Linked DNA regions of Homo sapiens: region 1 is reported to be linked to region 2. Evidence: microRNA targets listed by miRTarBase, many of them from high-throughput screens and not tested one by one. Region 2 holds a microRNA gene; the other region holds the end of a gene's coding sequence.

What was found. The annotated mature microRNA hsa-miR-645 reads UCUAGGCUGGUACUGCUGA and lies in region 2 at 1,611-1,629, shown strand. An mRNA with a match to its seed (bases 2 to 7 or 8) in the 3' UTR can be bound and repressed. Matches are read on the target gene's strand: a 7mer-m8 pairs with bases 2 to 8, a 7mer-A1 pairs with bases 2 to 7 and ends in A, and an 8mer does both.
Region 1: the mRNA of ADAMTS18 is a reported target of hsa-miR-645. Seed matches in the 3' UTR shown: 7mer-A1 at 1,761-1,767.

Annotation. Positions count from the first base shown.
Region 1 is chr16:77,280,657-77,284,656 of GRCh38, forward strand. It overlaps ADAMTS18 (ADAM metallopeptidase with thrombospondin type 1 motif 18), which reads right to left. Exons shown (of 23, transcript NM_199355.4): 23 at 1,472-3,415. The coding sequence ends at 3,300. Among named protein-coding and RNA genes, the nearest start is that of SYCE1L, 83 kb to the left of the region's middle.
Region 2 is chr20:50,584,236-50,588,487 of GRCh38, forward strand. It overlaps MIR645 (microRNA 645), which reads left to right and starts at 1,551; the gene lies at 1,551-1,644. It overlaps PTPN1 (protein tyrosine phosphatase non-receptor type 1), which reads left to right. Exons shown (of 10, transcript NM_002827.4): 10 at 1-1,006. RIPOR3 (RIPOR family member 3) reads right to left here. Exons shown (of 22, transcript NM_001290268.2): 21 at 3,567-3,657; 22 at 1,873-3,097. The coding sequence ends at 2,997. RefSeq lists enhancers at 2,086-2,599, 2,600-3,112, 3,929-3,988 and a silencer at 3,897-4,191.

The DNA of each region.
Region 1 (4,000 bases), not on the chromosome of region 2:
CCGTAATTTATCATTGTTAAATCACTTATTGTCAAACTCCATTCACATGCATCTCAGGGGGCAAAAAGTAGAGTTCTAAGGCCTGCATGCCCTTCTTTTTCTTTCTCTATCCCAGGGTAACGCAACACAGTCACGAGAACCCCAATGGATTTGGGTTTGAGTCCTGACCCCATCACTCAGTGACTGTGTACTAGGGCTAAATACGTAATGTCTCTGAATCCGAGTTGTCACCTGCCAACAAAGAACAATAGTATCTTCCTAAGTGGGCTATTGTTAGGATTAAATGAGATAACATATATAAATAGTTCAGTACAATACCTGATTCCCATTAAACACTAATATGTGGTTGCTTATTACCAAAAGGTATAAAGACAATTTTTTTTTCTGGGCGTGGTGGTGGGCACCTGTAATCCCAGCTACTTGGGAGGCTGAGGCAGGAAAATCGCTTGAACCTGGGAGGCGGAGGTTGCAGGGTGTTGAGATCCTATCATTGCACTCCAGCCTGGGCAACAAGAGTGAAACTCTGTCTCAAAAAAAGAACAAAATATCTTTTTTTCTGTCACGTATTTTATCTGCATCTATTCCATTTTCCATTCTTAATCATAATTTTTTGTTTGCTAAATAGCAATAAATTATATAAAAATTCTCTTAACTATAAAGATACGCATATGAACTTATGTAGACACACATGTAATCACAGATGCAGGGAAAAATACAGTATTTTCAGATCAATTGGACATAACTTTGCCCAGTTCTTATTCTCCACTGGTTTAATGATTCAAAATTTCAAAAAGCCAAGAACAATTACTTTTTATTTTTTTCATGTTTTCCTGCCCATCCTTCCCTTCCCCCTCTTTATTTTTACAAAAATATTTTACTAGAATGACTTTTAAATGTAAAAATACATTTATGGTAGTTTTATCTTAGATGATTTCCACAAATGTTCTCATGACAATTACAGGGGAACAAAATAGTGTGTCCTCAAGAGGGTAAATGTGTCATCTGTTTCATCCTAGCATTTCATACTTTGATTTCTTCAAAGGCAAACAAGAAAAATCACTAGTTGTTGAATAGCTTATCTATCTTTCCTCTTCTCAATGAAGTTACTCTGTAGATTTGTTGTTGTTGAGACAGAGTCTCTGTCTGTCACCCAGCGGGGAGTGGTGTGGCCCAATCTCCTCTCACTGCAGCCTCAGCCTCCCAAGTAGCTAGGACTACAGCTGTGTGCCACCACAGCTGGCTACTTTTTTTGTATTTTCAATAGAGACAGGGTTTTGCCATGTTGGCCAGGCTGGTTTCGAACTCCTGGACTCAGGTGATCCGTCTGCCTTGGCCTCCCGAAGTGCTGGGATTACCGAGGTGAACCGCTGCACCCAACCATTCTCTAAGAGTCCTGAGTGACATTTATACAGTTAAATTACCTTTGAAATTATGGACTTTTCACTAACTTATTCAAGAACTTAACAAGCTGTCAAAGATAAAGAAATGGAATACTTTATTATAAAACTTATAAAATAATTAAATATTACACATATATTTTGACTTTTCTCTATAATCCATGGTTTTATTCAACATTTTATCTCAAAATATTACTTAGAGAAGCAAGTGAGAACACATAATAGGCTATTAATTAATAAATTAATTTTCCATAAAATAATAAAATGATAATTATATAAAGAAATAACTTGCTGTTTTTCAGAAGGCAACGGGGTTGTAGTAGAGAAAATTTTTTTTTTTCCTGTTGATAAAATGGCCACTTCTCTAGGCCAAGCCAAGCAGATTGAGAGAAGTTCCTAAGCATTATTTCTCTGGGATTCAAGAACTCATGACTTTAATTAGAATGGGAACGAAGTATGCTGCTAAATTTAACAAACCACTGTCTAGTTGATTATGCTGAGCTGGCTAATCCAGCTTGAATTGAGACTTTTTAAAGAAGTAAAATTGGGTTACATTCATCAAAGAAGTTGAGGAATAAAGTAGAATTTATGTAAATATGCCCTTTATAACCACTTCTCAAAAAATTACAGGAGGACACAGTATTATAATTACTTTGGTTTTGGCAAAATAGTGTGATGTTTTTTCAATTGAGAACAATTTTAAACTCATTAATGCCTACCAACAGCTGGCTTCTGATGACTGAAAATACTCTTATTCAGTGAGGGTCTTGTCATATTATGATTTATTAATATTAACATAGCAAGAAGACAGATGGATTTTTTTATTACCACTGTTTACTCCTTTCTTTCTCTCTTTTTTTTTTTTTTTTTTTTGCTGTTAGCTCAATCCTAGGGCAAATTTAAACGTATCAGTTGGTAGGAAAAAGCCACAAGTGGCCTTTAATTTTCCAAGCAGCTCTGGTAGTATGTACAGAGCATTATAAATGATGGTCCTTTCTCCCTCAAAACACTGCTGTGTTTTGTCATTTAGCTCCTCCTAGATATTTTTTAAATACCAGAAATGGGTATGTAGCATTCCCAAAGAGCGGGCTGTAGCTTTTCATGGACTGATTCAGCAAGCACCAAAAGTTACGAGGTTGATAACATGTGAAGGGCATCCATATTTATCTTTTCTATGAGTTGTTTCCTTGCATGAATTTCAATTACATGGAGATCTTAAACAGTCCATGTTGCCCTATTTTCATAATATTCCTTGGAATACTTTTCAAGTTGTCAATTTTAGTCTCAGAGACTCTCTATAAGCAGAATATAGTTTACACAAAATAATAAAGACACACGCACACCAAATAAACATAACATGAAGCTTGCCAGTCCAGCAGCAAGCACAATTGCGAGCACCATTTGGCTTCTCATAGAACTCCTGGCTTGGGTGTTCACAGGGTTAGTCGAACTGTGAACTCCACGCAACAGTTAGGCAAGGTATTCCATCCAGATTTGAAAGTTCTGAGTCTCAGTCTTTGACCTGAAGTCATAAAGGACCTTTTTAAAACAGATGTCTTTGCCCTTGAACCCTTTGAAGTTCAAAAGGGGGTCTCTCCCCAAATCGACGTATCTCAGTGTGATTCACCACTTCTTGCATATAACAGTGCAAATCAAAGATTTTTTTTAAAGTCAGATTTGTCATCGCTTCCCATTTTCAAGTGCTTCAGAGTACCACGTGCTTCAGGGAATTGAGCTAGAAGCCTACTGGCAACCTGTCTGTTCCTCAGAGCAGGCTCCTTCATCACAGCGGCAGCTCACAGATGGTTCTCGGTGCTCAGCTCCTGGTCTCAAAGGCAGCTGGTCTCTCTAGAGGTTGAAAGGTAAGCCCCTGGCCCTAAGGTGCTGGGGAGGACACCAAGATCAGATCTTCCTTGTGCATGACTTGCAGCATTGTTTTCCGTAAAACTTGTGGTTGCAGACACCATGCTGAGGAACTAGGTGACACCAGTTGAAGAAATCTACGCAGGATGGATCCTCTAAAATAAGAAAATATATTTAGCATGTTGGCTAGGGTGTCTATCCTTTTTCTTTTTTTTTTTTTTTGAGATGGAGTCTCACTCTGTTACCTAGGCTGGAGTGCAGTGGTGTGGTGTGATCTCCGCTCACTGCAATCTCTGCTGCCCAGGTTCAAACGATTCTCCTGCCTAAGCTTCCCAAGTAGCAGGGACTATAGGCAAGTGCCACCAAGCCCAGCTAATTTTTGTATTTTTAGTAGAGACGGGGTTTTCCACCATGCTGGCCAGGCTGGTCTCAAATTCCTGAGCTCAAGTGATCTGCCTGCTTCGGCCTCCCAAAGTACTGGGATTACAGGTGTGATCCACCGGGCCCAGCCTTTGGTGATTTGCATATTATGATTTATTAATATTAACATAGCACCTTTTTCTTAAGGTGAGGGCCTACAGAACAAAGGTCTTGGGCCCACCTCCCTTGTGCCTCTATGTGGTTTTTCCCATTAAACATTGGGACTTTGGTAGGGGGGTGAGGTAGGGGCAGGATTTAGATGCCAAGAAAAGACTCTGACCATTAGCAAAATTAAATGATTTGTTTTTAAAAAATGTCAC
Region 2 (4,252 bases):
CATTCGAGGTGTCACCCTGCAGAGCTATGGTGAGGTGTGGATAAGGCTTAGGTGCCAGGCTGTAAGCATTCTGAGCTGGGCTTGTTGTTTTTAAGTCCTGTATATGTATGTAGTAGTTTGGGTGTGTATATATAGTAGCATTTCAAAATGGACGTACTGGTTTAACCTCCTATCCTTGGAGAGCAGCTGGCTCTCCACCTTGTTACACATTATGTTAGAGAGGTAGCGAGCTGCTCTGCTATATGCCTTAAGCCAATATTTACTCATCAGGTCATTATTTTTTACAATGGCCATGGAATAAACCATTTTTACAAAAATAAAAACAAAAAAAGCAAGGTGTTTTGGTATAATACCTTTTCAGGTGTGTGTGGATACGTGGCTGCATGACCGGGTGGGTGGGGGGGAGTGTCTCAGGGTCTTCTGTGACCTCACAGAACTGTCAGACTGTACAGTTTTCCAACTTGCCATATTCATGATGGGTTTGCATTTTAGCTGCAACAATAAAATTTTTTTCTAAAGAACATGAATTTGGGGTGCTTCCCATTTTTTTCTTTGCTTAATAGAGCTAAACCAGGATGAGTAACTCCTGTTTCTTTCTATCCCTGCTGATGTGAAACAGATGTTGTCAATCAGCTGGGGTTAGAGTTTTCCACTTCTAAGAATTAACCTCAGCATCCCTGCATTGCCAGCACCCTCAGGCTGGAGCGCTTTCCTTGACTGTGAGCTTGTTGAACACCTTAGGCCTCAGCCCATTTCCTTCCCAAATTGACGCTTTGCCTGTGTAGGGCCCTCAGATAACTTAACAAACTTACCAGTGTTGTTTGAAGAACAGTGTTTTGAGTTGTAATCTCAAAACCATATCCCTTACCCAATTACCTGTAAGACACAATGGTTACCACATCTCAGTACGTAAAGTCCACTTGATATAGAATTGACTTAGAAATAAGACAGATTAGTATAGTTTTTCATTTGTGTACAAAATTAAACAATGTAAATTCCCCCCAAAGTGATTTTTTTGACTTTTTGAAGTAATTTTGGACTTGCAAAATGTTGCCAAAATAGTACGAAGAGTTCCCCAGTACCCTCGAAGTTTCCTCGACTGTTTCAAAGCTGGCTGCAGGCCCAGGCTCATGAGACTGGGAAGAGGACAGGCTGTGGTCATGTGGACCCACAGGGGCCTGGGGCTGCAGAAGTCAGTGTGGCTTCCACCATTTCAGGTATAAAAAAGGGCATCTAAGCTTTCAAGAAGAGGGAGGATGCTCTAGGGCAGCGGTCCCCAACCTTTTCTGGCACCAGGAACCGGTTCCATGGAAGACAATTTTTTCACAGGCCTGGGGGTGGTGAGGGATGGTTTTGGGATAGAAACTTCCACCTCAGATCATCAGGCATCAGATTCTCATAAGGAGCTTGCAACCTGATCTCTTGCACACATTCAGTTCACAATAGGGTTCACGCTCCTAAGAGAACCTGATGCTGCAGCTGATCTAACAGGAGATGGAGCTCAGGTGGTCATGCTCAGTCGCTCGCCACTCACCTCCTGCCATGCAGTCCAGTTCCTAACAGGCCTCAGACCAGTACCGGTCTGTGGCCTGGGGGTTGAGGACCCCTGCTCTAGGCTGGTACTGCTGATGCTTAAAAAGAGAGGGTTTGCCAGAAATCAGATGGGACAAAAGGGCAAAGGCCGTGCCACAGAGTGCCCATATAGGGGAGAGCACGCCTGGAGCCTTCGAGAGCATGCAGAGAAGCCTGGAGACTGCATTTACCGGAGCTGCTGCCTGAGGCCACCCTCCAAGTGTCCCCACAGCGCACCACAAGACCACAGGAGTGACCTCCTCACTGGCAGGTATTTGGGGAAACAACTGCTGTCTACTCTTTTGGGTAAAAAGTGAAACACCAATAGTTTAATTGAAATTTCAGAAAATTGAACATATGAACAAGGCAAATAAATACTAAGTAAGTTAAAAACACAAAATATGTCCAGGAAGTATCGATGAGAATGTTCAAGTTAAAGTTCTCCAATGCCATTGCTACAGCAACCTCAAACCCTAGGTTCTCTCTGCACTATTAACACAGACATCTCAGGACATGGTTTGCTTTTTTTTAAGACTTAAATAGGAAACTAATTTTTCTTTCTTTAAAGCAATTGCGTTCTTCAGTGAACTCTTTCTTTAGGCCAGTTGATGGCTTCTTAGCAGTTTATTGACGAGATCCTAGGGTAGCTTCCGAAGCTGGGTTGATTGATTGCATTTGGGTGCGGATGGCCAAAGTGAGTGGCCCTACTGCCTGTGCTGCTCAGGGCTCCTGGGCTGATGTGGTGGCTTCTTCCCTTTGTGCTGCTGAACATAGGGAAAGTGAGGTTCACAGTCCACCATCCACCAGCCGCCGTCTGTGAGCTCCACCAGCACTCGCAGCAAGTCAGTCGGGCTGAGAGTGTGGTTGTAGAAACCCTGGCTTTGTGCCTTCCCACCTTCCCCAGCTCACCAAGGTGACACCTGGCTGCTGCTGAAATGGCCTGAGCAGTCTTGCATTAGCAGGGCCAGCCACCTGCCAGCCTGCTGCATCCCCAGTGCCTCTTGACGCAGAAGTGCCGAGCAGCTGACCGGCAGCGAGGCCTGGAGTTCTACACACTTGCCTTGGAGCCTTTTATTTAGGGCCTCAACTTGCCTGGCCTTGGCCCTTTTGTAGGTGGCCACCTAGTTTGGCTCAGCTCTGCATCTCGGGGAAGGTCACACAGACCCTCAGCCAGAAGTTGAGCGCTCTGTTGAGGCCGTGCAGCCCCTGGAATGCTGTACCTTTGCCTTGCTTTTTTCTGCCTCTGTACAAAAGACCAGCCCATGCCCTGGGGCTGGGTCAATGGCCGGAGTCTCAGGTAGAGCTCTGGGCAGCTCACACTCCTGGAGGAGTGCACAGCACCATTACCCAGAGTGCAGGCTATGTCCAGGCTGGGCAGCAGCAAAAAAAACGATGTGAGATTTGTGCTCATCAGCCAGGATTTTTTAAAATATTGTGATTTCAACATCTGCCTCCTGGCAAAAGACTTCTCTTTGTTCTGAGCAGAGCTTGTCCATCTTCTCAAAAGCTAACCGTCCTTTTTCACCTGAAATAGCAAAGGGACCTGTCAGCGGGTTGGATCCTGCCTTGGCACTTCCAACTCTCCTGGGCCAGGGTGGCCCTAGTGCTTAGTGACTGTGGGTCTCAGTGGTCTCTGCAAAGCGGCAGGGGAGGGAGTATGTGCGGGAGCCCCCACCTGGTGACTCACATGGCCTGGGGGCCTTGTCTTTACCTCTAGGATGTTCCGCTGAATGGGAACCCTGCCTTGCCTCTGGCTTCTATCCCAAAGGTCTAAGAAGACAGCGAACACTCCCTGCCACCCCAGCCATGGAGGAGGCCTGCCTTGGCAGGATGCTACAAAGGGTGGAGGTCGGCTCTGTGCCAGGGCTGCTAACGGTGCCCATCCCAGGTGCCCCAGAGTTGTTCTGCCTGCTGGGAGAGCTGGGTGTGGCCTCTCGCAGATTCTAAGGGCCCCAGGCACCCCGCTGCGCTGCACAGTTTGTGCCACTTTTTACCGAACGACAGTGTGGTTTCCCGGGCTGCCGCCCGCACGGCCTCCAGGTCAGACTGGCACAGGCTGGCAGTCTGGTCGATGCTTTCAATGCCCTGTTCGAGATTAGGAGAAAAAGAACCCTTTAGGGGGCCTTCTCAACAGCAGGTAGAGTCCACTTAGTGGCCCTGCAGGGCCAGTCCTAGCATGGTCTCTGGGGCCTCAGCCCCTTCCTTTTCTCCAGGCTTCCAGGTTTTTTAGGTGGCCTCAGGTTCATGAGAGGCACCTCTGGACTCTGGAAGCGTCTCGCCTCTTCAGCCCTTACACCCGCTAGGGAGCCAGGCTGTTAGCAGAACTCGTCATCCTGGATGCCTGCTGAAAGGCTAGAATTGAAAAGGAGACCTGCTGCTTTCTGGACCTTCCTGCCTCCCTCACGCTCTCCTTGCCCTACTCTCCAGGACAGCCTGTGCCAGTACTTCGCCCAACTCAGGCACATGCCCCCTGGCTGCTCCTGCAGGCCAAGGACCGGCATGCGCTGCAGCGCCCTCTACTGGGCACCTGGCCCTCGCTGGTTTTCTGATCCTAACCAGCTTCTCCTCTTAGAATTTCCTGCTGATCCATCCCAGAATGAATGGGAGTTCAATCTGTACTGAATTATCTTTCATCTAGCAATTGTGCAATTCCAAATGCAGGTGAGGTTGAGGGAAAGCG